Linked DNA regions of Homo sapiens: regions 2, 3 and 4 are each reported to be linked to region 1. The links are microRNA targets in miRTarBase. Many come from high-throughput screens and were not tested one by one. Region 1 holds a microRNA gene; each other region holds the end of a gene's coding sequence. Distances are between the middles of the regions.

Evidence for each region. The annotated mature microRNA hsa-miR-4739 reads AAGGGAGGAGGAGCGGAGGGGCCCU and lies in region 1 at 2,147-2,171, opposite strand. An mRNA with a match to its seed (bases 2 to 7 or 8) in the 3' UTR can be bound and repressed. Matches are read on the target gene's strand: a 7mer-m8 pairs with bases 2 to 8, a 7mer-A1 pairs with bases 2 to 7 and ends in A, and an 8mer does both.
Region 2: miRTarBase lists TRIM67 as a target of hsa-miR-4739. Seed matches in the 3' UTR shown: 7mer-m8 at 5,771-5,777, 7mer-m8 at 5,640-5,646, 7mer-m8 at 5,060-5,066 and 7mer-m8 at 659-665.
Region 3: the mRNA of RNF157 is a reported target of hsa-miR-4739. Seed matches in the 3' UTR shown: 7mer-m8 at 3,853-3,859 and 7mer-A1 at 3,593-3,599.
Region 4: the mRNA of SPINDOC is a reported target of hsa-miR-4739. The part of its 3' UTR that is shown has no 7-base or 8-base seed match.

The regions. Positions count from the first base shown.
Region 1 is chr17:79,705,070-79,712,312 of GRCh38, forward strand. MIR4739 (microRNA 4739) reads right to left here and starts at 2,180; the gene lies at 2,107-2,180. It overlaps LINC02078 (long intergenic non-protein coding RNA 2078), which reads left to right and starts at 2,197. Exons shown (of 2, transcript NR_109783.1): 1 at 2,197-2,587; 2 at 3,403-7,243. RefSeq lists enhancers at 2,039-2,660, 2,661-3,282, 6,070-6,619.
Region 2 is chr1:231,214,675-231,221,917 of GRCh38, reverse strand. It overlaps TRIM67 (tripartite motif containing 67), which reads right to left. Exons shown (of 10, transcript NM_001004342.5): 10 at 353-6,543. The coding sequence ends at 6,478. Among named protein-coding and RNA genes, the nearest start is that of FSAF1, 23 kb to the left of the region's middle. RefSeq lists enhancers at 591-1,091, 4,242-4,741, 6,433-6,542, 6,456-6,957 and a silencer at 5,273-5,332.
Region 3 is chr17:76,139,265-76,146,507 of GRCh38, forward strand. RNF157 (ring finger protein 157) reads right to left here. Exons shown (of 19, transcript NM_052916.3): 19 at 3,210-6,089. The coding sequence ends at 5,971. It overlaps FOXJ1 (forkhead box J1), which reads right to left and starts at 1,981. Exons shown (of 3, transcript NM_001454.4): 1 at 1,850-1,981; 2 at 634-1,300. The coding sequence starts at 1,131. It overlaps RNF157-AS1 (RNF157 antisense RNA 1), which reads left to right and starts at 1,292. Exons shown (of 8, transcript NR_040017.1): 1 at 1,292-1,416; 2 at 3,966-4,084; 3 at 5,658-5,822; 4 at 6,158-6,300; 5 at 7,010-7,073. RefSeq lists enhancers at 1-407, 5,569-6,117, 6,084-6,143, 6,118-6,665, 6,234-6,413 and silencers at 819-1,008, 1,069-1,138, 1,817-1,976.
Region 4 is chr11:63,825,980-63,833,222 of GRCh38, reverse strand. It overlaps SPINDOC (spindlin interactor and repressor of chromatin binding), which reads right to left. Exons shown (of 6, transcript NM_138471.3): 6 at 5,507-6,295. The coding sequence ends at 6,084. Among named protein-coding and RNA genes, the nearest start is that of MARK2, 9.5 kb to the left of the region's middle. RefSeq lists an enhancer at 57-876 and a silencer at 1,685-1,902.

The DNA.
Region 1 (7,243 bases):
ATGAGAATTTCACCTGGATAAAATAAAATTTTAAAAATAAAGTTAAAACAACAGCAATGGCTGGGCACGGTGGCTCACACCTGTAATCCCAGCACTTTGGGAGGCTGAGGCAGATGTGTCACTTGAGCTCAGGAGCTTGAGACCAGCCTGGGCAACATGGCAAAATCCTGTCTCTACAAAAACATACAAAAATTAGGCGGGTGTGGTGGCGCACCTGTGGTCCCAGCTACTGGGGAGGCTGAGGTGGGAGGAACACTGAGGCTGGAAGGTTGAGGCTGTGGTGAGCTGGGATCGTGCCGCCGCACTCCAGCCTGGGTGATGAAGCAAGACCCTGTCTCAAAAATAGCAATAATAATAACAATAATAATAATAACAATAATGGCAGCGAGCACTCCGGAGGCGCTCACTCTGAGCTGAAGAGGGTTCTGAGGGCTTTGACCCAGTGAATTGCTGCAGGACCCTATGAGGTGGGAACTTCTCTGTTGCCTTTTCCCAGCTGAAGGAACCGAAGCTCAGACACGGTGAGTGACTTACCCAAGGTCACCCAGCCACTAAGAGGCCAAGGGGACAAGAGAACTGAGTGTAAGGAGGAAATCAGGAAGAGACTGACAGGAAGTGAGCAGGGGACAGTGCGCAGCTGTCCTCGTGATGGGCCCAGCCTTGAAGGCAGCGTTCCGGCTCCCAGAGCTGGCAGCAGGAAGACATTGCTGGAGGGAGCAAGAGGTGGGGCGGGCAGGAGGGCCACCTGAGCCCTGAGCCCTGAGCCCTCAGCGGGCTCCTTGGAGAGTGACCTGGACCTTAACATTGACCCTGGCACCCCGCCTGCTGTTCCCCATGACGCCCCACGCCCCCACCCTGCGTCTGCTCCTGTGACTTGAGGAAACGGACCGACCTCCTTTAAAGGAGGGGTTCCTGAGCCTGGGGAGCGTGACTTCCGAGCCTGTCCGAAAACACCAAACGCCAAAGACACCGAAGCTGTTCCACAGAAGCCGCAGCCGATCGAAAGCCATTGCTGCACGGGATTTTCTTTGGAATTGGTTTTTGGTTCAGGTATTTTTTGGATTAGCATCATCAACACTAGAACTCAACATGAGAAATCCTCCTGGCACCCTCAGACCCCCAGGATCCACCCGCAGCGCCCCACCCCTCGGGGGTCTAAGGACGGGGCCACGGGAGGTGCTCCCCACGCCTTAGCTAGACGCAAGGCCCTCCCGCAGGCTCCCGCAAGCCCATCAGGGCTGGGCGTTTCCCACCCCTTCCCACCCCACCCATCCACCTTCCGTCCAAGCAGGAGTGCAGCCTGCTTGGGCTCAGCGTCCCCTCTTCTGAGAAGCAGCCCGGCCCCATCCTGAGCGCCCCTGGGCCCACAATCCCTCCTCACGTGTGTGGGGCTGGCCGTTGATGTCGCCTGGGCTGGGGGTGCACCTGCAGCGCAAACACGTGACTAAGCATCTTCCTGTCCCGGGCCCTATCAGCGTTGGGCCCCAGGCAGCCCCTCCAGGGGCTACAGTCACCCACCCACCTACAAAGCCCCTCATCTGCAGCGGTGGCTTCATTCCCGGGACGCGCCCCAGGCTCTGCTCAGTCATGGCCCCCAGACCCTCAGGAGCCCCCGAAACATGATGACCTCCAGCCACGTGCCAGCTGCCAGGAGGAGGCTTCAAGACCCCAGATGAGCACCCGGCTGGCCATGCCCCAGGGACAGAGGACCCAGTGTGACAGAATCCGGCCTGGGCCACAGCCACCCACACAGTCCATCCCAGTTCAGCCCGAGGTGGACAAGAAAAGTCCCACCAGGGACTGGAGCAGATGGGGCGGGCTCCGGACCCCTGCCTGGTCCACCATCTGTCTTGCCAGTCGGTCCGTCTACCCAGGCAGCCCCTCCTCCCGGCCCACCATCTGCCCGGCCCTGCTAGGCCCTCCTCCTGGCTCCTCCAGGGCCCTCAGGAGGAGACAGAGCTGGAGCCAGGGCCCAGACCTCCACTGCCTTGGGCCCGCCCCATCTGGCACCTCCAGAAGAAGGGGGCGGCAAGAGCTTGGCCAGGGCAGGGGCACTCCAGGGCAGCCGAAGGCCCTTGCCAGCTGTCTCATGATGAGATGAGCAGAGGGAGGGGGAGGGGAGGAAGGGAGAGGCTCTGGGAAGACAAGGGCCCCTCCGCTCCTCCTCCCTTCTTCCTCCCCTGCCCACGTGGCCTGGGCGGGAGGGACACGCCGATGGGAACATCCCAGCTGGTCCAGGCCTCTGCTCCCCCCAGCTCCTCCTCCCTGGCGGGCAGCTCTTCTGGGCTCCTGAGGTGCTGCGCAGCCCCTTCCCTGGCCCTGGGACCCCCAGTGCCTGAGATGAAAGAGGAGTTGCTTCCATGGACGGTCCCAGTGCAAGCTGGGGGGCGCTGGCCTCAGGACACCAGGCATCCAAGACATAGGGACACCAGAAGCCCCGGCTCTGCCTCTGAGGTCCAGCAGCCCCAAAGCCCCTGCTCAGAAGCCAGCGATGGGAGGGCAGGGCCTGCCTGTGGGACCCATCATGGGCGCAGCAATCGCCAGGCCCTGGGCAGACAGCAGCACAGCCTGTGAGTCCAGGGCTGGGGTAAGTCGGCAAGTGCACCCCCGGAGGTGGAATGACAGGAGCTCCTGTGGAGGACGCAGGCGACCCCCGCCCCTCACTCCACTGTGAGGCCTGAGGATGTACAGGGGCAGCTCTCCCTGGCTTATGAAACGCCCCCACCCTGCTGCCCCTCTGGGTCCTCCTCACCCTGTGGCCTGCAGGGTCAGGAGCATGACTTTGGTGTCAGGAGAGAGGCTGGCTCCTGCCTGTGGCGGGTGTTGGGGGAGGAGTGGGGTTCATTATAAATTACGCTCCCCTCGAACCCGGCTGTTAGGTGAGGGCAGGGCTGGGATTCACCCTGCTCTCTGCAGGGGAGGGTCAGCCCCCAGGTGCTCCTGGGTGGGTCTCCACGGCAGGCCAAAAGGGCAGGCCCTGGGCATGTCCACCCCCTGTCTCTGGTCCCACAGCCCCCTACTTGCCACCTGCCCTGAGCAGCCCCCAGGAGAGCACCCGCAGGGAGGATGCTGAGGTGCTGGAGGGCAGGAGTCCCAGCTGAGGCTGTGACCCCAGCTGTGCTCCCCGTTCCCTCTTAGGACCAGCAAAGACCCAAGGACAGGCGGCCAATCAGGGCCCGGTGTTTACCCCTCCTCCCCCACCCCCATCACGGGCCTCCCGCAGGACCCCCAGGAAGAGCAGCTTCCATTGACCAAGGTCGGGGGACGCCCTCCCGCTGACACTCACTCTCCACGGATCCTGGAGCCCACGAGTCCCCTCCCCACCTCCACTGCACTGGGCCCCCCGCAGGCCCTGGTGGGGGTGGCCACGGATAACCACACAAACATGCATTTTCCTTGTAGGAGCAGGCAGGTGACAACCAGTGTCCTACTTTCCTGCATTAAAACACCCAAATCAACAGGACGGAGAAGGCCCGGAAGAGGGGACCTGAGGGAGCCAGCCGGGCGCTCAGCCTGCTTCGCTGGGATGCTTGTCGAGGTCGGGACGGCACCACCAAACTCACCTCTGTGCGCCCTGCGGGGCCCAGGAGACTCGGTCCTCCCTGGGCTCCCCCAGGCCTGGGGTGGACGTTGGAATAAAGTGGGGACAACACGATGAGAGACCCCAGCCCTGGAGGTGCCCTCGGCCAAAGCCCGAGATCAAAGCTGGGAGATTCGTGGCTGGACAGCACCACCTGGTGGACACGTTGGAGATTACCAAAGCCGAACAGTCAATTCGTTCTTGGTTCTGGGATTTTCTTAATTGGGTCTTAGCTGGGCCTTCCTTTCTCTTTCCCCAGTAGCAGGGGCTTTGTGACTATCAGAAACACCTGCCAGGCCTGGGCAATATGGCGAGACCTCATCTCTACAAAAAAAAAAAAAAAAACACAAAAATTAGTGAGGCGTGGTGGTCCCAGATACTCAGGACACTGAGATGGGAGGATCGCTTGAACCCGGGAGGTCGAAGCTGCAGTGAGTCGTGATCATGCCACTGCACTCCAGTCAGGGTGACAGAGAGAGACCCTGTCTCTAAAGAAAGAAAAGGCCGGGAGCAGTAGCTCACGCCTGTAATCCTAATACTTTGGGAGGCCGAGGCGGGAGGATTACCTGAGGTCGGGAGTTCGAGACCAGCCTGACCAACATGGAGAAACCCCATCTCTACTAAAAAATACAAAAATTAGCCAGGCATGGTGGCGCATGCCTGTAATCCCAGGTACTCGGGAGGCTGAGGCAGGAGAACCACTTGAACCTGGGAGGCAGAAGTTGCAGTGAGCCGAGATCACACCATTGCACTCCAGCCTGGGCAACAAGAGTGAAACTCCGTCTCAAAAAAAAAAAAAAAGAAAGAAAGAAAGAAAAGAGAAGAAGTCCTTGTCTTCTAATAAGATGTTGTTGGTTTCAGAGAGCCCAATCCAGGCACTTCAAACAAGGCAGGGAAATCAATGGCCCTGAAGAAAGTTTCTCTTCGACAAGCCCCTCCCTCCCTGACACTGGCATTCTGGCATTCACCCACCAGCCCCTCCGTCCCTGACGCTGGCACCCTGGCATTCACCCACCAGCCCCTCCCCTCCCTAATGCTGGCACCCTGGCATTCACCCACCAGCCCCTCCCCTCCCTGATGCTGGCACCCTGGCATTCACCCACAAGCCCCTCCGTCCCTGACGCTGGCACCCTGGCATTCACCCACCAGCCCCTCCCCTCCCTGATGCTGGCACCCTGGCATTCACTCACCAGCCCCTCCCCTCCCTGACACTGGCACCCTGGCATTCACCCACCAGCCCCTCCGTCCCTGACGCTGGCACCCTGGCATTCACCCACCAGCCCCTCCCCTCCCTGATGCTGGCACCCTGGCATTCACCCACCAGCCCCTCCCCTCCCTGATGCTGGCACCCTGGCATTCACCCACCAGCCCCTCCCCTCCCTGACACTGGCACCCTGACATTCACCCACCAGCCCCTCCCCTCCCTGATGCTGGCACCCTGGCATTCACCCACCAGCCCCTCCCCTCCCTGACGCTGGCACCCTGGCATTCACCCACCAGCCCCTCCGTCCCTGACACTGGCACCCTGGCATTCACCCACCAGCCCCTCCCCTCCCTGATGCTGGCACCCTGGCATTCACCCACCAGCCCCTCCGTCCCTGACACTGGCACCCTAGCATTCACCCACCAGCCCCTCCCCTCCCTGACACTGGCACCCTGGCATTCACCCACTGTCTGGGGCAACTACCCTTTCCTCCCACCACTGATGGGACGGCACCCTGGCACCCTGGCCTACCAGTTTTGAGGGGAAAAAAATTAGAAATCTTTGGCCAAAGAGGGGACAAATTGAGCCTAAAATCAAGCCTTGGTGTCTCACTTTTTAAATCTACTTTTACCTTTTGTGTATTGGTTGTGTGATTTTTTGTGTACTCATTGTGTATGATTGCTGAATACACAATGAATACACAAAAGCTATAAATAGATTTAAAGAGAGAAAGCAAACCAAAACCCATCGGTAATCCACTGGAAAAACAAGCCTCCAACTCTATTCAGAACATTGTCAATTAAAAGAAAAGAATTAAGAATTTCCCTTTTAAACTATATTTCAGGATAACTCAATAACTCTAGTGGACAACAGCAAGTATTTTTGGTTTTTGTTTGTTTGGTTTCTTTTTTTTGAGATGGAGTCTTGCTCTATTGCCCAGGCTGGAGTGCAATGGCACAACCTCGGCTCACTGCAGCCTCTGTCTCCTGGGTTCAAGTGATTCTCCTGCCTCAGACTCCTGAGTAGCTGGGATTACAGGCGCCCGCAACCAGGCCCTGCTAATTTTTTGTATTTTTAGTAGAGTTGGGGTTTCACCATGTTGGCCAGGCTGGTCTCAAACTCCCGACCTCAGGTGATCCACCCACCTCGGCCTCTCAAAGTGCTGGGATTACAGGTGTGAGCCACCACACCCAGCCTGTTTGGTTGTTTTATTTAAGAGACAGGGTCTCGCTCCATCGCCCAGGCTGAAGTGCAGTGGTGTAATCACAGCTCACTGCAGCCTTAACCTCTTGGGCTCAAAGGATCCTTCTGCCTCAGCCCCCGAGTAGCTGAGACTACGGGCGCGCACCACCACACCTGGCTAATGTTTTATTTTTTTGTAGAGATGGGGTCTTGCCATGTTGCCCAGGCTGGATTCAAGCTCCTGGCCTCTCTCACCTTGGCCCACAAAAGCTCTGGGATTACAAGCGTGAGCCACCGTGCCCAGCCTTTTTTGTCGTTGTTGTTTTTAACAGAACAATTTCAGCTACTCATTGTGAAGGAGATGAGATCATGAGAGAAACCATGATTTTGCCACCTCTCATGACATAAGTATTTCTCGCAAGGGTCATGGATGAGATCAGTAATGACAAAACTAGGGCATCACAGGGTGGATCCGGGCTATGACCACCTGGACCCACGGGGCACACTTAGCATCACAGGGTGGGCCCAGGCTGTGGCCACCTGGACCCACGGGGCACACTTAGCATCTCAGGGTGGGCCCGGGCGATGGCCACCTGGACCCACGGGGCACACTTAGCATCAGAGGGTGGGTCCGGGCGATGGCCACCTGGACCCACAGGGCACACTTAGCATTACAGGTGCTTCCATGTGGCTCTCACAGCTCTGCCCACGAAGGCTTCTGGCAAAGAAAGATGAGCCTGAATCTAAGGGCGTTTCTGCGGCACAGCTTCCATTTGCAGGAGACACGGGGCGAGGCGACACCACAGAGAGGCAAACAGCAGCGCGATAGGCCACACATTTGCAGGACAGCTGATCTGGTTTCTGCAACAAATCACAAGTGGTGGGAGGAGCAATGGGGGTCGGGGGCGGCGCCTGATCTAGAGTAAGAGAGGTTCAAGAGGCGCCACCACAAAACTTAAACTTTGGGCCTTGTTAGGAACCTGTGTGTTCCATCTGATGGACGTAAGCAAACAATCAGGGGAATGTGATTCTGGATGGGGCCTGAGCGGGTGCCAAGGAATGACTGTTAATTTGAACATTGCCCTAAGGGAACCGCAAGTGTGTTCCAGAGTTTCCCGTACTTGGCGCCTTGCAACCTGAAGTTCATAGGAAGAAAATTTCAGAACGTTTTTGCTACAGGATGGAAAGTGCTTCAGCCACAGGGGAAAAGCAAAGAGAAAGACAACAGCAATGCATGAAACAAGTGTGGCGATTATCGATAAAGTATGTGTGGTGAT
Region 2 (7,243 bases), not on the chromosome of region 1:
GCTAATTTTTGTATTTTTGGTAGAGACGGAGTTTCACCATGTTGCCCAGGCTGGTCTCAAACTCCTGGCCTCAAGTGATCTGCCTGCCTTGGCCTCCCAAAGTTCTGGGATTACAGGTGTGAGCCACAGCACCCAGCCTAGTTTAGAGTCATATGTAATCACCCTGAGATTTCCTGGGCACGCGAAGCAGAACCACATTGACCCTGCTACTTAGTAACGCCCAGCCCCACTGGGGGAAGAGACCGTGTGGCCTCCCCTCCTGTAGCCTCTGCCCTGTCTGCTGGGCAGTCAGGGCCAGTTGGGAAAAAGGCAGACCTGACCACGGAGCAGGAATTACAGACCACATCTTGTCTTTCTGTTGTTGGCAGTGTCAAAAGAATTTATTTCAAATCTGCTTAAGACTGTGGTAAAACTCAGGTTTTCCAAAAGGTAATACAGAAAGTTCAACTAACCCCCAAAGACCAGAAAACACAGTGTTTGCAATTCAAAAAATACAAACGCTTGTGGATACCAATACAAAAATTAGAAAAAAGTTGCTTTCCTTACCACTCCCCGCTACCCCCCGTGTTTTCAGTGGAACATCCACAGCAATAGGACCAAGAGCTGCCACCAAATACCAACAACGAGTGACCGAAAGTGGATGTGATGGGGGAAGGGGAGGGAGGAGAAATGGGGATAAAGAAAGGCAAGAAAATTGGACTTCTGTCGACGGTCAAAACAAGGACGCGAAGCTTTTTGTTTCTTGTTAAATCCCTTTGCCAACGTTAAACAAACACCTCTCATGCTTAATACAACAGCTTAGTGCCAACGCAGCAATCCTACATCATGCATTGAATGTTTTCTGCTTTGCCCGCTCCCCACTTCTTCTGGGTGCCGAGAAAGCCTGGGGCTCTGGGTGTCTGGTTTCCAGGGCTAGGAGGAGTTGGAGAGGCTTCCCCGGCTGGGTCTCACCCAGTAAGCACCTGACATGTTCCTGCTACTGCAGTTGCAAGCAGTCACCTTCCCGAACCTGAAGCCTGGTTTTGGCCTCTCCTCAGAGCTTTACCCGAGGGCCTGGCCTGGTCTGCAGTGCCCGCATCACCGGCCCACAGGTCCCTAGGCCTTTCCCAGGACTGTGCTCCTTGAGAGAAGAGCGATGGATCCGGACGAGACTTCCCTGGAGGTCTCAACTCCCAGCTCCTGACTGATGTCAACGTCAATCATTGAAAAAGCCAGGGCCTCCCCCAACCTGCATAGCTCGTGCTGGTGAAGCCCCAGCAGTCCCAGCGGTTATCAGTCATCTGAAAGTGACATGATGACCCACTAGCCCAACCAGCCTTCAAAACTTCGGCTCAGTTGCATCTCTTCGTGCTATCCACACTGGATTTCAAACCCATTCACACTGCAGAGACCCCTCGAAACAAAGGAGGCAAGCTGTGAGATGAGAGACCCCTTAGATACCAGAACTTAGGTAACAAAGAAGGCAGAGGCCTGGGTTAGTGTCCTTCCTTGGTTTAAAGGGGCTTCTGCTCACAGAGGCCTTGAGGCCTCGCAGTGAGACTGCTGACAGGTAGCCTGTTCATAGCACTCACACAGAGCGCCATTCAAACAGGCCTCGCCGGGAATGGAAACATATGGGGTGTTACTTTCTATGGTCATAGGAAACCTGTCTTAAAGGTCTATTTTACCCACTGGAGGCCAGGCAGCTCCTTGCCCTGGTCACAAGGAGGCTTGGATGGAAGACACTGGTCAGAGAACACTGGAACGCCCCCCACAGGTTTGAGTCACTGAATGGGAATCATTAGCTTAGATGCCAGAGATGAAAGACTGCACTTTTTTTCTTTAAAAATGTTATTGTATAATCCTCACAATACATCAGAGGAGGTAGGTTAGTATGACTAGTCTCATTTCAGGTGGGGATACTGAGGCACAGAAAGGATAAGAGATTGGCCCCCACTCATACCATGAATCACTATTAAAGCCAGGTTAAAAGAGGGAAGTAACCGAGGGCTGAACTTGGTGTCTGATCAATACATCCTGCCCGAAACCTGCCCTCATATTTTTACAGCCTAGATATTAGGTTAAAGCTGCAGGATCCTTTGATCTTCTGGGAGGAACTGCCAAAGAATGTGGTCAACAAACACAGCTACCGGCTCACTTGCAAAAGAAAAGTCCTGAAATTTTCCAGCATCACCATCTTGAATATTTGCCAATAAGATCTGTTAGATTTTTTTAAAAACCAATTGAGGGCCACAAACCCATTAAGAAGTTCCTGTTGCTTCCAGTAAAATGTGGCCAAGGAAAACAAAGGTAACGAGTTTTGCTTTCTAGGAAGTGGGGAGCGGGCAGGGGGCATCTTCAGTGAGTGAAAATTCAAGACCCAACAGGTTGGCATCTGTTGGAGGTGGCTCACCCCATTTTCCCCTACCTGCCCCCTGAAGACACATGGAAAATCCTGGGCTTGGGTATCAAGATAAAGGCTGGCAGCTTTGTCACATACAGGCTTTCTATGGAACAAAGCAGCCGGAGCGCCACAGTCCCTCTACAGATCCATGCATGACAAACCACTGGCATAACCTGGTGGTTCTCAACTTGTGGAGGCCCCCAGGAGATACCTAGCAATGTCGACAGATACTTTTGGTTGTCACACCTAACTTGGGGGTTGCTACTGGCAGATGATGGGTAGAGACCAGGGATGTTGCTAAACATCCTACGGCATACAGAACCTATCGCAAAATGTCAGTAGAGGTTGAGAAACCCTGGCGCCACCCCACGGGCTGTGCAGCAGTGTTCTTTAGCATTCACATGTTGACTCCCCCTAAGGATTGACCCTCCCTCACTACCTCAAAGCCAGCAGGTGGCCATGGGACCAGCAGCAGCCTCCTTGACACTGAACCACCTGCCCACCGGTGCCGAAACCCGCCTTCCCAGGGGGACCAAGCCTTTCGCTTGCAATGAGAATTAAGGCTTAAATGCAAATATCCCTGGAAGAAATACACAAAGATCCTGCATTCTGATCCTTTCCTGAGAGTGCTGTGGTGGGGCGGAGGGCAGGGGCACCAAGAGGGAGAGAAAGGGCGCAAAGAGGAGGGTGGGCCTGCCCCCAGCTCTCTTGGTGAGCTCCACAGAGCCTGCCCAGGCTCAATCCGGAAAGCACCACCCTCCTCAAACTTGGTGGGCCATAGGGCACCTAGGGCGCTGTTGCAACTACAAAGTACATATCAGGCTGAAGATGCAGCCTGGAAATATATACAGTTTTATAGTGTTTAGGTCAGTTACCTTGTGGGTCAGTATTACTGGTGTCCTCTTTAATTGGAATCATTATTTTCCCAAGGAGAACAGAGAGAGGAAAAGCAGGCTTTGGGGAAATACCTTCCCCTGCTTTGAATTAGGAGCTGGGATGCTATGTATGCAGTGAGGTGCTAGTGGATATTTTCGGAAGAGATTAATTTTAAAAGGAAAAGGCATACACTTTGACCAAGCTTGCTCACTAGCAAAGAACAACTGCAGAACCACATTACAGAGGCACTATTTACAATGCAATGGAACTCGACATTTTTAAACTACTTTGAATTCCTTTTTCACTGAAACTGCTTGATAGATTTACACCAAGTTACTCCTCAGCCAGCCCAACAAAAGCCTCATCTTGATATCATTTATATGTATGTACAAATGTGCCACCATGATGTAACGTGTTATGGAATTCGATGGTGGATGAGAATTCCATGACCTGTCTGTCATTTCTACTCTGAAACCCGGGACCTTCCTGGCCATGAGGAATTGATAAGTTCCTTCTTCACTTTTCTGATCCCTCAAAAACACAAGTGTGTGGCACGGACCTGTCGTTCTCTTTGAAGTCAGAACATTGAAGGTGTTTTGTGCTGAAGACAGGAGAGGTGTCTGTGAAGGAGAGCTGGATGCTGTCCCTGGCATCGGCCGTATTGCTTCTGGGCTCCTGGAGGAGTCAGAAAAGGGAGAATCCCAGCCCCCAAGCTCAGGGTGGCAGTGGGGAGGAGGGAGTCCTGGCTGCACCTCTCTGGACTTCAGGGAACTTTTTTCTGAAAGAGGCCACCGGATTTGAGGGCATTACCCTCCTGCACTTTCCACTTCTCTCCTGACCTGGATGCTGCTCCCTCAAAGGGGTTAGGTTCAGGGTAGCCCCAGGCAACTTGTGCTCCAATGATGGGCGATTCTTCTGCAGAGCTGGGGCCACCTGGTGACCTGGGCTGTGGTGATGGTGGAGGCTCCACAGCCTTCCCCAGGGCTCCCCTGTGAGAAGCTGCTGTCACCAGGCAGCCCTGCCTAGCCCACTCTCATTCTGGGGGCAGGGTGTAGGCCTGTTTTTTTTTCAGAAGAGAGCTAGACACTTCCCAAAGCTGATGGCTTCCTTGGCCCCAGGAAAGTGGTGGCTCCTCTTCATCCTCAATCTTTAGGGATCGTCTCCATGCTCCAAGCAAAGGCCACCCAGAGCTATGGCTAAGGATGAAGCTGCAGGGATATGGGAGACAGAGGCAGAGGTGCGGGCAAGGACACAGGGTCCCAGGTCTTGTGTGTCACCACCAAGAGCTCTGGACAGGGCTCTGGGATGGGAGGAGGAGACCCAGAAACCGCTTGGTGAGATGACAAGGAAGAGGCAAGACCTAGACTTCCATGAAGCAGATAGCTCCCAGGCTCCGCAGCAGAGACTGCAACACAGCACCGAGCAGCTCCTGGAGACGGGGCAGCTGGCCTTGCCGGCCACATCTGCAGAGACAGCGGACCAAGCAGCCTTGCAGACCAAGAGCATGAGCTTTGAGGTAGGATTGTCGGGCCTGCTGAGTGGAGGGGGGGTACCTGCATGGCTCCGGCAGGCAGTTACTCAGAAAGCAGGCGCGGTGTCTGAACAGGAAGGCAGAACCAAGGACGCACAGTTGGTGCTGGTGAATGGGCGAATTTTATAAAAATCCAGTCCAGCAAATTGACAAGTCACTTCTCAGCCTCAGAAATAAAATGCTTGACAAAATATATTCTTTTTAAAAGGAGAGAGAAATGTTACTACCAGGTGGAGCTGGAGGTGGCAGGTGACTGGGAAGATGAGAGGAGGGAGGAGAGGAAGGGTTCCCTGGGAACAAGAGCCTGGCAGGCTCAAAACCCCTGCCATGAGCTGTCTCTGAGAGGTGTGGATGAATCAATGTGGATCTCAAGGGAGAAGCCTGGTGTTTCCAGAGTCCTGCCCTGGCAGGTCAGACTCGGCACACCCAGTCTCACAGTGGGAAGCTGGGAGACAAGGTACCTGATACTGCCCTTCTATTTCCTGCCTTCCCCAGAGATCCCGCCCACTGCATCAGGGCAGAGCCGTCCCGGCCTGCCACAGGGGCCACTTGTGTTCATGATGCTTTCATAATGACAATAGGGTGGACTGACTAGAACAGGCTTTCCCAGGGTCTCCCATTTTAAATGCTTATGAGTCTGAGAGTGGTTCAGCTCAGAAGAGCAATCTGGATGCATTTTCAGTTAACTTCTTGGGCTGCCAGTTTCAGAAAGGAGCCATCACCAGGCGAAGACCTATGACATAGTTGTTAAAATTCTTGTGTTTTCACGTGGATTTAAGAACTAAGAACTGAGTGAATTAATTTTAGGAGACTGTCATGCCTGTGTGTGTGTGAGAGAGAGAGAGAAGGAGGGAGGGAAAGAGAGCGAAAGAGGGAAGAAAGAGGCAGGGATGGAGGAAAGTAAGAGAGAAGGAGGAAAGGAAGAAAGAGAGAGCAAAGGAGGGAAGGAAGGAGAGAGAGAAGAAGAGAGAAAGAGAAGGAGGGAGGGAGAAGAAATGAAGGATGGAGGAAGAGAGAGAGAGAACACAATTGGCTGATTAATAAAGGAAGCCATTTTAAAAGGTTCTAACACTTCAGTGAGAGAGGCAAAAGTCAAGCATGAATGATTAATGTCCCTTTCTATCAATCCTGCATTGGGTCTGCAAGTGGCAGGTGCTACTAAAGACTCTAGGACCAAGAAGCTAAAAGATAACTTTCTCAGCATGATGAGAATCTGCAATCTCGGGACTCTGAGGAGGCAAGGTCCCCACGGAGGGCCAACACCCGGGGCGTGGGATTACAGCGCAGCTCCTGACTGCCGCTCTCAGGAGGCCAGTCTCAAAGTCTACCTTCCTCTCCCTCCAAAAAAAGACAAGCTTTGAAAACAGATGGCAGGAAACATAGACATGAAGCCCGAATGCTGACTCCCTTGAGAAAGGTCCTTCTTGGGGAGTGTTCGTAATGTCTGGGTGGAATAAGGGTGACACACGTACCTTCCTTTGCCACTGACAGTGGCAGCTGTGAGCATGGCCCGTGGACCCATTCCCTGCGTCCCCAAGAAAATGTGTTTCTATGACACTCCACGCTGCCAGGTTGCACCCATGATTTGCATATCCTGCTTTTGTGGGTTATTTGAGCTTAGTGAGAATGGTGGGCGTTTTGCCTGTGAATGTCACTGTCACAGGCACAGTGCCGAGCTGGAGCGGGGCTAATTGCCTGACAGCTTTGGCCGCCCCAGGTTAGTCGGCACTTCCAATCCTGTGTGCAGGGTGACCTGGAAAAGAAGACAGGGCAAGTGAGGGTGGGAGAGGCTGCCGCAGGGACCCTGAGGGCTCTGACAGCACCGCAGACACCGGCAGGATCCCCTGCTGGCTCCAGGGCCATCCATGCAATAGCTCAGGGCTGCTGTGGACTGTTGAATATTACGTCCCCCAGTATTCCTAATTAAAGGCTATGTTGGTTTGCACCTCTTTCCTCATAATAAGAATCACCCAGCTGACTGGTTCCTCATTTTGCCAGAGCTGCCACAGCTGGGCAAAGTAGACGCCATCACAGGAGCACGGCTCTCACGCACTGGCTCCCGTGGTTACATATTTGTGTCTACTTTCTAGCCATGACCTTCTTTCCTTTCCTATTAAACCCATTCTATTAACTGTGAGGAATTATAGCCAACCTCTTATTTTTTGGATTAAAAAAAGCTTATCTGTTCATTGGTAGAGATGGTGTCTTGTTCATTCCCCAGGCTGGTCTCAAACTTCTGGGCTCAAGCGATTCTCCTGCCATGGCCTCCCAAAGTACTGGAGTTACAGGCGTGAGCCACCATGTCAGGCCAAGCCTAAGCCTATCTTTTTTTTTTTTTTTTTTTTTTTTGAGATGAAGTCTCGCTCTATCACCCAGGCTGGAGTGCAGTGGTGCGATCTCGGCTCACTGGAAGCTCCGCCTCCCGGGTTCATGCCATTCTCCTACCTCAGCCT
Region 3 (7,243 bases), 3.6 Mb from region 1:
ACAGCGGGGGTTGGAGGCAGGAAACTGAGCAGAGGTTGAGGTGGGGGGCTGGGACAGCAGCTTTAGGAAGGCCCCTTACCCCCTCCACCCTCCATTGGGACACACCTGGCCCTCACATGCTAAGGCACCCCTTCCATTCCACCCTCCCCAAGCCAACTGCAAAAGGGCAGGACGTAGAGCCTGGCAGGGAGGCCACGTTCCAGTTTCCGTTTCTGACTCCCGGCCCCGACAAACCATCCCGGGGCAGGGCAGTGTCTAGGAATTCTAGGACTTGGGACAAGAATGCGCCTTCAGTTCATCGCTCTCCCCAAGGAGATTCTGTCCACGCAGAGTCTAGCCCTGGTCTTTGGCCTGGGCCTGCTGGATGAATGGCAGGTTATTTCCCCTTGAATCTCAGCCTCTGCACCCCTAAAGCCCTCCACCTCTGGACATTCTCCCTTCTCTCTCTCTCTCTCTCTGGAAGTCAAAGGAGGGGCAGTTGCAAGAACTGGGCTCCTTTGCAGGGCTCCCTTCTGGGGCGCTGGCCGCACCGCAGAGCCTACTTGGCCTGCAGATTTGGGATATGAATCCAGTGCAGCGTGGGGAGCGAGGAGGGAATGGGGAGGGAGCGGCCGCCGCCCGTGCCTCCTCTACCTGCCAGGTGGGATCTGCGTGGCGGAAGTAGCAGAAGTTGTCCGTGATCCACTTGTAGATGGCCGACAGGGTGATCTTGGTGGCCTTGCTGGCCTGCATGGCCATGCAGATGAGCGTGGCATACGAGTAGGGAGGCTTCACGTGCGGATTGGTGGCGTAGTCCACGTCGTCGGGGGGTGGGGCCTGCAGCCCCGGGGGCGCGCTCCGCGACGTGCACGACGACGTGGGCTTGCCCGGCGTGTGTGGCTGCCCCAGGCAGGCGGGGTCGGCCGCCAGGGGGGACCCGGGCGCCGCTGAACCTGGCACCTGGTGGTAGCCGTGGGGGTCGGTGCCCCCCGGGGGCAGGGCGGGGGCCTTGGCGTTGAGAATGGAGAATTCCTGCAGCCACTGCAGGCTGGTCAGGCTGTCATCCAGGGCGTCGGGCTCCTCCAGGCCGCCCTCCGGCCCGGCCTCCTCCGCCGGCCCGGCTCCCGAGAGGCGCAGCCAGCTCTCCGCCATGTCTGCGGGGACTCTCCGAGGGGGCGGTCAGCATCCACGGGCTGAGCCGGGGGTGGCCCGCCGCGCTCTCTGGCCCGCTGAGTCCCGCAGCTCCCGTTACACGGCCTCCCGGACGCGCGCTTCCATCTCGCGACCCCGGGGGCGCCTCCTCCGAATAAGTATGTGGTGCCTGCGAGGACCACGGTGGGAGCTGAGCACTACCCCACCCCCGAGGGGACAGTGTGTGTACGGGGACGCCCTCTCTAACATCATCCCCGCAGCTGGGGAGGATCTTTTAGTGCCGAGGTATGGGAAACAGAAGCAAGGCCCTGGGGTCCCACCCCCATCAGATCTGCCTCCCTCTTCCTTTCCTCTTCGAGGTTTTATTAGCCAAATGAAGAGGGTAGGGGCATCCGAGGCTATCCTTTTCTCCCGAAGAGCAGGAAATCAGGACCCCCTTCCTCCTCGCAACAAATGGAAGTGGGGCGAGAAGTTTGGGAGGGCGGTACGACGGGGCGGGGGCGGTGGAGGTCCTCTGATCCTTGAAAAGGAATATTATGATAGGGGATCATTGGGAAGGAAGGGGACGGAACAGTAACGGGGGGCAGGAGGCGAGTTTCCCCCAGACTTCTCCGATGTCAGTCCCTGGGCCCACCACTTCCGTTAAGGACGAATGAGAGAGCGGGTTGGTACCGTTGCCCACCCTTCCCCCTGGCCTGCAGCCCTCCCCATCCCTTACCTGGCTCAGAGCGCAGCCCGGGCCAGAGGAAGGTTCTGGAAGAAGTTGCTCCCACCCCCTGCGGCTCTCTGCCCCCAGCTCGGGGGCCCTGCCAGCGCCTCTTGCCGCCCCCCCGCCCGACGGCGCTTCTCTGAGCTACCGCGGCCCCGGGACCGGCATTAAGTAGCCGCTCCAAAGGCTTCTCCTGCTGCCATGGCGACGCTCCGCCCCCATAAACAGCTTCCGCCTCTGCCATTGGCCAGCACGTCTCCAAGGAGACCGCGGGCACTTGCCACTCTCCCTGGCGGCAACTCTCTTCGAACTCCCTCCTTCTGCCGCCCTCTCCCGCGCCACCCAACCCCCTACCCGCCGCTAAGTCCCGGCTCGGCTCATTCCCGCCCGAGGGCCCCGCGCTGGGGTCGGAGAAGCGCGCGGCCTGCGGCACCGGGAACCGCTATGGATCCGTTCGTTCTGGGGAACCAAGACTCTCGCCCCCACCCCCTTCCTGTCCCGTACGCTTTGAGGCGTCGACTGCTCCTGGGACGGAGCCTGGGGTTGGGGGGCTAAGGCTGGGAGCGGGCTCAGGCTCGGGAACCGTATCCTTGAGGTTTTCTTTCCTCTCCGCTACGAGTGGCACTTTCTCATGTTTCTGCAGCCTTTCCCTCTCCCCCGACTCTTAGGGTCTTTCTCTGGTGTCCCAGGCAGGTCTGACTTTCCGATGCCACCTGCCGCTTACATCCACAGAGGCGGCAGACACACCAAGGGGGTAGGGTAATCCAGTGTGTCCCAGTAAGCAGCTCCTTCCCCACCCGTATCCTCGAGGTTCCAGGAAGCTGACATTCCAGAGGCTTCTGCAGAAGCGCACTCACTCCTCTGGAGACAGCTGATGAAGCAGAGCCCGTGGGTAAAACTCTGAAGTCATGGACTTGTCAAATTCTCCTAGCGGGGTCATTTGCCCAATTAATTTCACCAACCTTTAAGTCACAGGGATTAAGAGTAGAGGGACTCTGGGGACTGTGTCCCTTCCTCCTCCCTTCCCCTGGCCTCCCTCCTGTCACCAGCTTTCCTGCTCTTTAATTATTGAGGAGCTGCAGGGTTGGACGTTCTCCGGTTTAAGGCGGCTGCAGAGGCAGTGGTGGGGGCTGGGTTGATTACCCCGCCTCTGCCCAGGAGCTGGAGAGCCGGGGTCGGGGAGGCTGGTGCCCAGACCATGAAGAAGGCCCGGCTATGGCGCATCACTCCCCCGCCAACATGCCTTTCCCTAGCCCTTGCCTCTCCCACTCCTCCAACTCCAGATCCTCTTGAGTAAAAGTATTAAAGAGTGCTGGCGAAAGTCAGACAGAAACTTTCACAGATAAGCTCACTTTGCAGTTAGCTCTCCTTCCCTTGTAAACAGTTTTATTCATTTTTAAGAATCATGCAGCAATCCATAAATATTGCATTCTTGATGTCCCCACTGTAGTGTGACCACAAGTGTACTCCAGGGAGAGGGGTACACAGATGGCACAAGCAGTATACACATGCACACACCAGGTGTGCAGACCAAAGCAAAGTGAGCGACCAGCGTGCTAAACTCCAGGTGGGCAGGACCCCAACTCCCAGGTGAGGTGGGCAGGACCCTAACTCCCAGGCCAGCCGGCTTAGAGTGTGGTGGTCTGTGCCCAGGAGATGCCTCAGCGGGGGTAGAAACTCTGGTGGGATGGAGCTGGGCAGAAGGAAAAAAGGGCTCTGTGAGGAAGCCGGGATCACACCACCTGAAGGCAATAGGGAGAGCACAGGCCTAGTGCAGCAGGAAGGAGCCCTGGGTCTCCATAGTTAGGCTGTGCCCTGTGGGAGAAGCCAGGCCCCACCTCTTCTCTTTGGGTGAACTGTTGACGTGACTATGTGACTGTCTCCAGATGAAGGACTGGGGCAAAAGGGTTGGCCACTGACCTGTCCTCATCAGGCTGACTGAGGACCAGCTCCTTGGATGGAGTATTTCTGTGGGCCAGAGAGCTAAATGACAGCCAAGAGAAGGCAGGGGGAGGGAGGAAGAGGAGAAATAGTAACTGAGAAACAAGTAAAGGACATTTCTAACCTAGGTATGCCTTGGACATGGGACTGAGGCCTTGAGGAATCTTTCCGTGCTTCTCCCTAGGAGAGGACTAAGCACCTGCTGCGAGGAAGGACAGGGATCCTCAGGAAGGGGGTCCTGGCCACTGTGGCTACTGTTTACCTGAATCTCCTTCATCTCAGCTCCTTCCTCCCTCCTCCCAGGTAACACCACACTGTGAATACTACCTGCAGGGGACAGGACAGGAGGTGGTCTGTGTGCCACCACCCCAGGGTAAGGGAAGCTCCCTGTCACCTGCTGCTTCTGGGCTCATATTTCAGGGAAATCAGGAAGTGGGGTTATTGCTCAGCTTATGCATCTTAACTATGAAAGGGGCGGGAAGAATGTAGGGGGAAGGAAGGAAAGAACATTAGGTGGGGCCTGAAATGGTAAAGTCTACTGCAGTTTTTCAGAGAGGGTTGGACGACAGGCCCCCCTCTCCATCAGGGCAGGATGTGAGCCACAACCACTAGGCAGTGAGACAGTCACTGCACTCCTGGCCTCTGCAGCCACACAGAAACGAAGGACCCCCTGGGCACCAGGCTCTTTTTGAGGCTGCCTTGGAAACAGCCTTGAATTTTTTTTTTTTTGTTTGAGACAGAGTTTCGATCTTTTCAATCTTGTAGCCCAGGCTGGAGTGCAGTGGCACGATCTTGGCTCACCGCAACCTCCACCTCCTGAGTTCAAGCGATTCTCCTGCCTCAGCCTCCCGAGTAGCTGGGGAGGGCCCTTGAAGTGAAGGCCCTGAGCCCTGATTCCAACCTCTGCTCCCAGCACACTGCTGCTGGCCACATGCTGCTGCCTGAACTTAGCTCAAGGCTCTCCATCACTTCCTTTGGGGACCTGGGCACCAAACTGAGAATCACTGGTCCACATTTCTCTCAACCATTAACAAAAGGGGGTAGAGATGGGGGCAACAGGGACAAGAATGCCACCTCCCAATTGAGTGAGGATGAATTATGGTAATATACGACCACTCCTCACCCAGTGCTTGGCACACAGAGGTGGTCAACACATGTGTTTCTTGAAATGTCACCTTAGGATGGAGTTGCAGGCCTCCCTGAATGCACCTGATCAGGAGAAATGCTCCTTAAGGGAAATCATCTTAACTGGGGGATTCTCAGATTCAAGGGCTCCTTCTTTTTTTTTTTTTTTCTCTGTCGCCCAGGCTGGAGTGCATTGGCGCGATCTCGGCTCACTGCAAGCTCCGCCTCCCGGGTTCAGGCCATTCTCCTGCCTCAGCCTCCCAAGTAGCTGGGACTACAGGCGCCTGCAACCATGCCCAGCTAATTTTTTGTATTTTTAGTAGAGACGGGGTTTCGCCGTGTTAGCCAGGATGGTCTCGATCTCCTGATCTCATGATCCACCCGCCTCGGCCTCCCAAAGTGCTGGGATTACAGGCGTGAGCCACCGCGCCCGGCCAAGAGCTCCTTCTTAACCGCACAGGCATGTGAGGCCCAGAAGACTGGCTCTGCCACCAGAAGGAAGGATTGTTTCCTTCAACCAACCTTTTGGTTGCTACCATTTCTTGTCCTTGAGAAAGGTGCTCCTAGTGCTTGTAGAGGGAAACGCTACGTCCGTGCAGTATGGCTCTCCCTTTCCACAGGAGCGATCCTCCAGCCCTACCCCAAACTGCAGGTTTCCAATTGGTTATGATGTGCCAGAGACCAGGAAATGCCAGAGGGATGTTTGTAACAAAGCTGCCAAACTCTAAGCCTTCTTGTTCTACCCCCTAAGGAGAAAAAAGATGTGTAAGAAATTAGCCCATGGACCCCAGCTCCACCTGAACATCAATATACCGTGAGGACATTCCAGAGTCCCTGCAAAAGGTCTCGTGAGCTGCAGTTCATTGAGTGGCTTTAGGTCACACGGAGAAAGGAGGGTTCCAGTTCCCTCTGAGAGGTGAGGGATTGTGGTTACAGGTTGTAACAGCTGTCACAGGAGGGTAAAAAGTCTCCAGCATCTTGCTGAGGATGCCCAGTAGGCAGCAGCTGAGTGAGGATGGATGGAATGCAGGGCAGGAGGGGAGCCCAAGTGCAGAGGCTGGGGCTCAGACAGCCAAAGGGCCCCACACACAGGGCCTCGTCTCAGAGTCCTCCAGGCTGCTGGATGACAAGCGCCGGCGCTGGGCATTCCGACTGACGGCATTGTCATCAGCCTGCCAGGCACCTGGGGAAGAGAAAATGAACATTACAGGAGCCAGACCTTTGGCCAAATCCAGATGGTGTCTCCAGCAGGGCAGCCCAGGAGCCGGCACGGAAGGAGCAGGATGCGTGTCACCTGAGACTCCGATGACGGTGCGAGCCACAGCACTCGTGTGTGAGAACGGAGAGAAGCAGGTGCTGACAGGTGCAGAGCCTGCTCCTGCCCCCTGGGCTAGGTACAGTCACTGCCACTGTGGCTCCCGGACAGGGAGGGACATGAAAGATGTTCCTTGTTTTGCGAACTTACCCTGGGATCCACTTTTGTATTTTAATTACTTGGTTTTAAAGTTTGCCTATATGTTACAATAGACAGGAAAAGGAAATTGGGCCTTGCTGAGCTATTTTCATTGGGGCAGGAAGAGGTGGGGGGAAGTGAGAAGACTGTTCGTTCTGGCCGAGTGTTAATGTTTTCTGTGGGGGCCCAGGCGGGGCAGGAAAGGACTGGCCACCCAGCAGGGTTCCTGGGATGGAAGGCTGCCTGGAGGGAGGACAGTGTGAGGCTCCAGTCCCCGTCACCTGCCGTTTTCCTCTCCTCCTGCACCTACGCAGCTGTTGAGGTTTGCTACTAGCTGGTGCCATCAGCCCAGCAGACACCAGCCCAAGAGCCTCGGGGTCCCACAGATACCATCACTAAACGCATCCGCTCCCCAAATCTGCTGCTGCCCCCACATGAGGAGTGCCAGCGCCTGTCTGGAAACCCATTCTTGGTGCTTCTCTTTCCCTTGTGCTGTGGATCCAATCCTCCACAGCCTCCTGTGGGCTCACTTCCTGGCCGTGTTGTGACTCCATCTGTAGTCACGCTAACCTGGGCTCCACTCCCAGTTTACAGCAGTGTGACCTTGGGCACATCAGTTTACTGTGGGCCTTGGTTTTCTCACCCATCAGATGGGACATGCGTACTGACCTCACGGGCTTGCTGTGAGGACTAGATGAGAGAATGCGAGCGTTGGTGAGTATCTGACTCCTAGAATAGCCTGTGCTCAGGCTCCTCCAGGCCATCTCGCCTCTCCCCTGGGAGTCCTCTTCATCTCCTGCCCACAGATGAGCTCCTCCCTCCAGTGCCCTCCCTCCAGTGAGGCTAGGGCGCTCCTGCCTTGGGCCTCGGCTGCCTCCACTCTC
Region 4 (7,243 bases), not on the chromosome of region 1:
GGGCACAATATGAGGTGATCTGTGATGAAGCCAGGGTAGGTGTCCTGTCTGTACCCCATAGTTTCTAACAGTGCCTGCCCATGGGGTCCTTCACTGATGCTTGTGTGATCTAAGCAACACAGGGTGGTTACCCCATCTCCCATCACACACCTGCTTTTCCTGCTTCCTCTGCCCACCCCCACCAGATGTGGGGCTGGAGGAGATCCAAGCCATTGACATTGGTGTTGGGAACCCAAAGGCTGGCTCCTCTTCCTTCCTGGACGCTGGTACATTTGTCCTGAGAATGAGGGTGTTCTCTCTAGGGGAGAAAGGGACTGAGCAAATTTGGTGGCATGATGGCTCTGGGCTGAGGCACCTGGCTCCAGGGAGGTAGGAAGGCAGACACCCCAGGAGGTGTTGCAGTCCCTTCCCTGTCCCTGCACCTGCAAGCAGCCTCAGTAGGGTGCCCCCCTCCCAAGAGACTCCGATGGCAGAGAGGGTCTGCAAGCCCATTAGAGACCCTCTCCCATCCCAGCCCCCATCTTCTACCACACCTTAGGGGTGTGCAGGATTTTACAGTTTACAAAGGGCCCCAAATGCAGAGTCTCATTTGAGCCACACAGCAGCCCAGCTGTGTGTGGGGTGGAGGTGGGGGTGACTGCCGCATTTTCTGCAGAGAAACAGGAAGCTCAGATTGCAGGAGCATCTGCTAGAAAGCCTCAAGGCCTGGACCAGACCAGTGCCACCACTGGGGTGCGGCAGGGGCCCAGCCAGTGTCCCCCATTCCCATTCACACTCCCACATGCTCCAGTTTCTCTTCAAGGAGGGCAGGGGTGACTGTTCCCTTGTCTCAGACTGGCTTTGTCCCCAAGAAAGAGAGGATTACCAGCATTGTGATATAAAAAGACATATATATCGGCCAGGCTTGGTGGCTCACACTTGTAATCCCAGCACTTTGGGAGGCCGAGGCGGGTGGATCACCTGAGGTCAGGAATTCAAGACCAGCCTTGGCAACACAGTGAAACCCCATCTCTACTAAAAATACAAAAAATTAGCTGGGCATGGTGGTGGCAAGCACCTGTAATCCCAGCTACTTGGGAGGCTGAGGCGGGAGAATTGCTTGAACCCTGGAGGTGGAGGTTGCAGTGAGCCGAGATTGTGCCACTGCAATCCAGCCTGGGCCTCAAGAGCGAGACCCTGTCTCAAAAAAAAAAAAAAAAAAAAAAAAAAAAAAAAGACACCTGGGCGCAGGTGGCTCACGCCTGTAATCCCAGAACTATGGGAGGCCGAGGCAGGAGTTATCACGAGGTCAGGAGTTCGAGACCAGTCTGGCCAAGAGAACAGCCTGGCCAATATGGTGAAACCCCCCCACCCCCGTCTCTACTAAAAATACAAAAATTAGCTGGGCGTGGTGGTAGGTGCCTGTAATCCCAGCTACTCAGGAAGCTGAAGCAGGAGAATCACTGGAACCCAGGAGGTGGAGCTTGCAGTGAGCCAAAGATCATGCCATTGCACTCCAGCGTGGGCGACAGAGCAAGATTACGACTCAAAAAGAAAAAAAAGAGACATATATATCTGGTCTTCATCCGGGTTTCTGGTCCAGAACTAAAACTCTTGGAATTTCCTGAGTGATGGGGAGAGAGGAGCATCTTTTGTTATTCATAATGAGTCTCTTTTCACCACACCTGAGTTCACGCTAATGAGATGACTCTTGGAGGATGGGGCTGGTGGCCAGAGAAACCAACCACGTGATTAGGGGATTGCAACTTTCATCCCTACCCAAGACCTTGGGGAGGGAAGAGGGGCTGGAGATTGAGCCAATCACCAGTGGCCAATGATTTAATCAATCGTGCCTAATGAAGCCTCTATAAAAACCCTAAATAATGGGGTTTGGGAGGTTCCAGGTCAGGGACAGCACCCCATCCACATGCCAGGAGGGTGGCTCACTCCAACTCCACTAGGACAGAAGCTCCTGTGCTTGGAACCCTTCTGAACCTCGCCCTCAGTACCTCATCACCTGTTTGTTTATATCCTATGTAACATCCTTTATAAACAAGTAAATGTAAGTAAATGTTTCCCTAATTTTTTTTTTTTTTTGACAGGGTCTCATTCTGTCACCCAGGTTGGAGGGCAATGGCGTGATCTCTGCTCACTGCAACTTCCACCTCCTGACTTGAAGTGATTCTCCTGCCTCAGCTTCTAGAGTAGCTGGGATTACAGGTACCCGCAACCACGCCCAGCTAATTGTTGTATTTTCAGTAGAGACGGGGTTTTGCCATGTTGGCCAGGCTGGTCTCGAACTCCTGATCTCAGTTGATCCACCCGCCTCGGCCTCCCACAGTGCTGGGATTACAGGCGTAAGTCACCGCGCCCGGCCTGTTTCTGTGATTTTTGTGAGCCATTACAGCAAATTATCAAAACTGAGGAGGGGGTTGTGGGAACTTCCAAATTTGGGCTGGTCAGAAGTACAGGTGACAAGCTGGGACCTAGAACTGGTATCTGAAGCAGGGGCAGTCTGCTGGGACTGAGCCCTTCACCTGCAGGGACCGTGCTAACTCTGGGTAGTGAGTGTCAGAACTGAATTTTAGAACAGCTGGCTGGTGTCTGGAGAGTCGGAGAATTGATGTGGGCGCCCCCCTCCCCACTAACATTGGTGTCAGAAGTACTGGGAATGTAGAAAGTTTTTCCTTGTTAGGTATCCAAAAAGATCTCCCACACCTGGATCCCATGGAAGGCAGCTGGGAGGGCAGGAGGTGGCTGGCTTCAGAGAGCCAAGGAGGTCTGGGAAGTCAGGAAATGGGTGTGTGGCTCAGCAGTCAGGGGCAGCGGCACCCTCTTCCCCAACTTCTTCAACCAAACACATGGTTGGGCCACAGCACCACATGGATGAAGGTGCCACCACCAGCCCTGAGAGTCACCGACATTCGTGCAGAGCTTCCCTGGTGTTGCACCAGGATGCAGGACCAGCGTCACGGACTCCAAGCCGGTGTGGAGTAGGAAAGCCCTGGGCAATCCGTCAGTAAGGTCCTTCCAGCCTGGGCTGGAGTCATATCCTCAGCCCCACTTTCTCCAACTCTTTCCTGGAAGCCCAGAGGTGCCACACACAGCTGCTGGCCACACACACTCACATAGTCCCCAGGGCCCTGGCTGAGGCTGGGGAGACCCCTATTGGCCACAATGTGGGGATGAAGTTCCCACCCTGCACAGTCACTGTAGCAACCACCCTGTGCTGAGAACCACACTCCAGGGACCAACATGCACTAGAAAAATGTCACACAGGAATACACACTCAGAGGGCACTCGAGAAACATTTATTGAGCACCTACTATGTGCCAGGCCCCAGGCAGGACACTTGGAAAACAAAGTCAATACAACCTGGTCCCTGCCCAGGAGCTCACAGTCTAGAAGGCCAAGCCATTAATCATAGAACAGCAAAGGGGCATTTGGCTTCACAATTTTACAACAAACTTTTACATACGTTTTCTCAAGTGTAAACACCCAGCAACACAGCCATGTTGTTTTAAAAGCACATTGGCATAAATGTAAACACAAGTCACAGGATTGAAAGGATGAGAGAAAACCATTTGCAGTATTTGTGCTTGCAGAACCAGATTTTTAGCATTATTTATTCCCTCCTATCAGGTAGGATACAAGTTTTGCCAATCTGTGGATAATGGTGTTTGAGACATGGGAGTTCCGTGGCCGGCCTGCCTGCCTGCCATCATGCAGTGGGGGAGCCACACTAGATACAAGGCATCCTGAAGCCTTGGCCACTGCCTTCTGTCCACCACACCTGTCTTTTAATGTCCCCTAGACAAAGACCCTGTATATTTCTAGGCTCCTCCTGAGCTTATCAGATGGGGAGAAGGGATCATGTCCCAGGAGCCCACCAAGTCGTGAGATCCCTCATACCTGGCTTGGCACATGGTGACACCCCATCAGGTGAGCACACAGCACACGCTGCCCAGGCCCAGACCCTGCCTGCCCGAGATGAACTTCCTGGTTAGTCTCAAAATCTGGCAGTGTTGGCCGGGCACAGTGGCTCACGCCTGTAATCCCAGCACTTTGCGAGGTCGAGGTGGGTGGATCACCTGAGGTCAGGAGTTTGAGACCAGCCTGGCCAACATGACGAAAACCCCATCTCTACCAAAAAATACAAAAATTAGCCAGGCATGGTGGTGCACGCCTGTAATCCCAGCTACTCGGGAGGCTGAGGCAGGAGAATCGCTTGAACCTGGGAAGCAGAGGTTGCAGTGAGCCAAGATCGCAGCCTGGGTGACAGAGCAAGACTCCAACTCAAAAAAAAAAAAAAAAATGTGCCAATGTCAGCGTCCTACAGGAATAGCTGCCCTCCAAGTCCCACCTGTGCCCCCACTTCTCCTATGTGCACATTTGTCAGCATGTGCAGAGGTATACAGTCCTGCTTACCACACCTGCCATGGGCTCTAAACAGGACAGTACAGCTGGGGTTTGAGAAGGGGCTGCCTGTGTGCTCCATCTCACCAAAGGGAAAACCACGCACAGATCTGGCCCCTGTTGGTTTAGTTTAGGAAGGTAAGGAATCCGGTGAAGAGACCAAAAGTGGCCTCCTCATGATCCAGGGAATAGGGGAAACCAGCAAGTGTTTGGGTTTAATTAAGCCAAGGGTTGGGGGGGATGAAGGTGGACAGCTGAGGGTGCAGGCCTGTAGGGCTGGAAAAGGCGGGGCTGAGTTTAGGACCCCTGTGCCCCTCACCATCATACGGAAAGGGAGGAGAGGCATCTTTCTACCTGCAAGCTGGTTACCGCCATTTCACTTTAGAAAGCTCAGGATAAGCCGGGCGTGGTGGCTCACGCCTGTAATCCCAGCACTTTGGGAGGCTGAGGCAGGTGGGTCGCCCGAGGTCAGGAGTTCGAGGCCAGCCTGACCATCATAGTGAAACTCTGTCTCTACTAAAAATACAAAAAATTAGCTGGGCATGGGCATGGTGGTGGGTGCCTGTAATCCCAGCTACTAGGGAGGCTGAGGCAGGAGAATCACTTGAACCCAGGAGGTGGAGGTTGCAGTGAGCCGAGATCGCGCCACTGCACTCCAGCCTGGGCAGCAAGAATGAAACTCTGTCTCAAAAAAAAAAAAAAAAAAAAAAAAAGAAGAAAAGAAAAAGCAAGCAAGCAAGCAAGCAAGCTCAGGCTAATTCCCAGCTCCCTGGTTGTGAGCACCCCTGGGCTTCTACAGTGACCTCTTTTGGGCAGAGGCCTACCAGGTGAGCCAGAAGGTACAATGTTAAAGAAAATTGTTTCTGACCCCCTTTCCAGAGCAGAGAGGAAGGGAGGGGGTGAGACGCCCACAGGTGACTGATAGCACAAGTCAGCCCTCGTTCCTGGGCTCCACAGAGGCCTGCCCTGGTGCTGTCCCACCTTCAGGAGAGGTGGCTCCCTGGCTCCCCCCAGGACCATCTTCCAACCCTCCTGCCCCTCAGGGTTGCTCTAGGTGGCCAGGTATCCTGCTAGCAAACCCTCTCCCCCAATGATGGCCCAGACGGAACTCTTAATAAAAAAAAATAATTTATTGTCAACAAAGGTGATATATACAACAGGAAAACAGATGTAAATGAGAACGGGAGTGAATGGGGTGCCCAGGCCCAGCTTCAGGCCTCTGCAGGGGTGGGACAGGAAGAGGTAATGGAGGCCTCCTGGTTTAGAAGCCTGAACAAGTGGGGAGGAGAGGTGTCCCCCGAGGTAGTGGGACTCAGTTCAAACCCCCTTATGACCACTCTTGTGTAAGGCACTGTGCCAAGGGAGAATGGTGGGGAGCAGGGGGAGGGTGGGAGGAGGTCATGGGGGACAAACAGAGGTGGGGGTCAGCGAAGGACTGGGGTAGGTGTTCTCCACAGGCCCAGTGCCCTACTGCACAACAGCCTCAGCCACCCTCGCCGACCTCAGGCCTGGCCAGGAACAGACACTTTCCAGTGCCCCGAAATAACAGTGGATGCTGCCCCAGCCCCCTCCTGCCCTGGCACCTGTTTCTACTCTCTCCACCAGGTGGGTGAGCCAGGCAGCTCTGAGTTATAAGCCACTGGGGGACGCTGCCTCATCCCTCCCTCCCTCCCCAGGAAAGCAAGAATTTACACTCCATTCCCTTTTTCCGGCTTCCCTGCCACAGTGGTGCTGGATTCTGACAGAACTGTGGGCCAGTCTGAGGTGTCACCTGCTCCCACACGCTTGGTGCCCTGGGGGTGCCTGGACCAGTCTTGCAGGAGGCTGACCGCTGGGGGCTCCTCCATCCGCACGCGGATAACCTGGAGATCCAGTGTCCCGCGGAGCCCCGGAGGGGGAGCTGGGCAGGGATGAGAGCAGAGAGCAGTCAGAGCCCCCCAGACACCCCACCACGAGGATGCCCCCTGGAAGCTCCGCAAACTGTACCCACATTTCCAGGGCTTTCATTATGTCCACAGCCCAGTGCCTGGCATGAGGGGAAGCCCAAGGATGGCAGGGAGCTCCACTCCTGGGTGATCGAGGACTGCTGCCAGCTAGAAAATGAGGCGCACAGCCTCCCTAGGGACAAGCCAGCTGAAGCCAGGCAGCCTTCCTCCTGTGTGTATTTTGGCACAGGGACGCCTGGTGCTCGTGCCTCTTCCTGTAACTCCTACCTGCAGCCAACTCCATTTTATCTCAAACTTACTGGGCATCCTAGCCTAACGGGTTCTGCCTGAGTGGGGCAGAGGTGATGGGGTGGGAACACCCAGAAGCAGTCTAAGGCATAGCTGTGCCCACCAAGGAGCTCATGAGGGACTACGTGGGGGACAGAAAAGACCCCTGGCGAACTTCCACCAGGCTCTTTATCTCCTGAGTGTCAACACCTACATCACCAAGACCAGGTGTCCACCTTACCAGTATGGAGAAGGCACTCATAATGGGCAAAGCTGGGCCTCGAGGCAGAGGAAAGAGGACTGAGGACTGCCGTGGCTGCGTGCAGCCATAAAAAACGAGCACGCAACAGGGACGTGTGCAAAGGTTACGTTACATTAGGGCTGGGCATGATGGCTCATGCCTGTAATCCCAGCACTTTGGGAGGCCAGGGTGAGCAGATCACTTGAGGTCAGGAGTTTGAGACCAGCCTGGCTAACATGGAGAACCCCTTTACTAAAATACAAAGAAATTAGGCAGGCATAGTGGTGCACCCCTCTAATCCCAGCTACTCAGGAGGCTGAGGCGGGAGAGTCGCGTGAACCTGGGAGGTGGAGGTTGCAGTGAGCCAAGATCACGCCACTGCACTCCAGCCTGG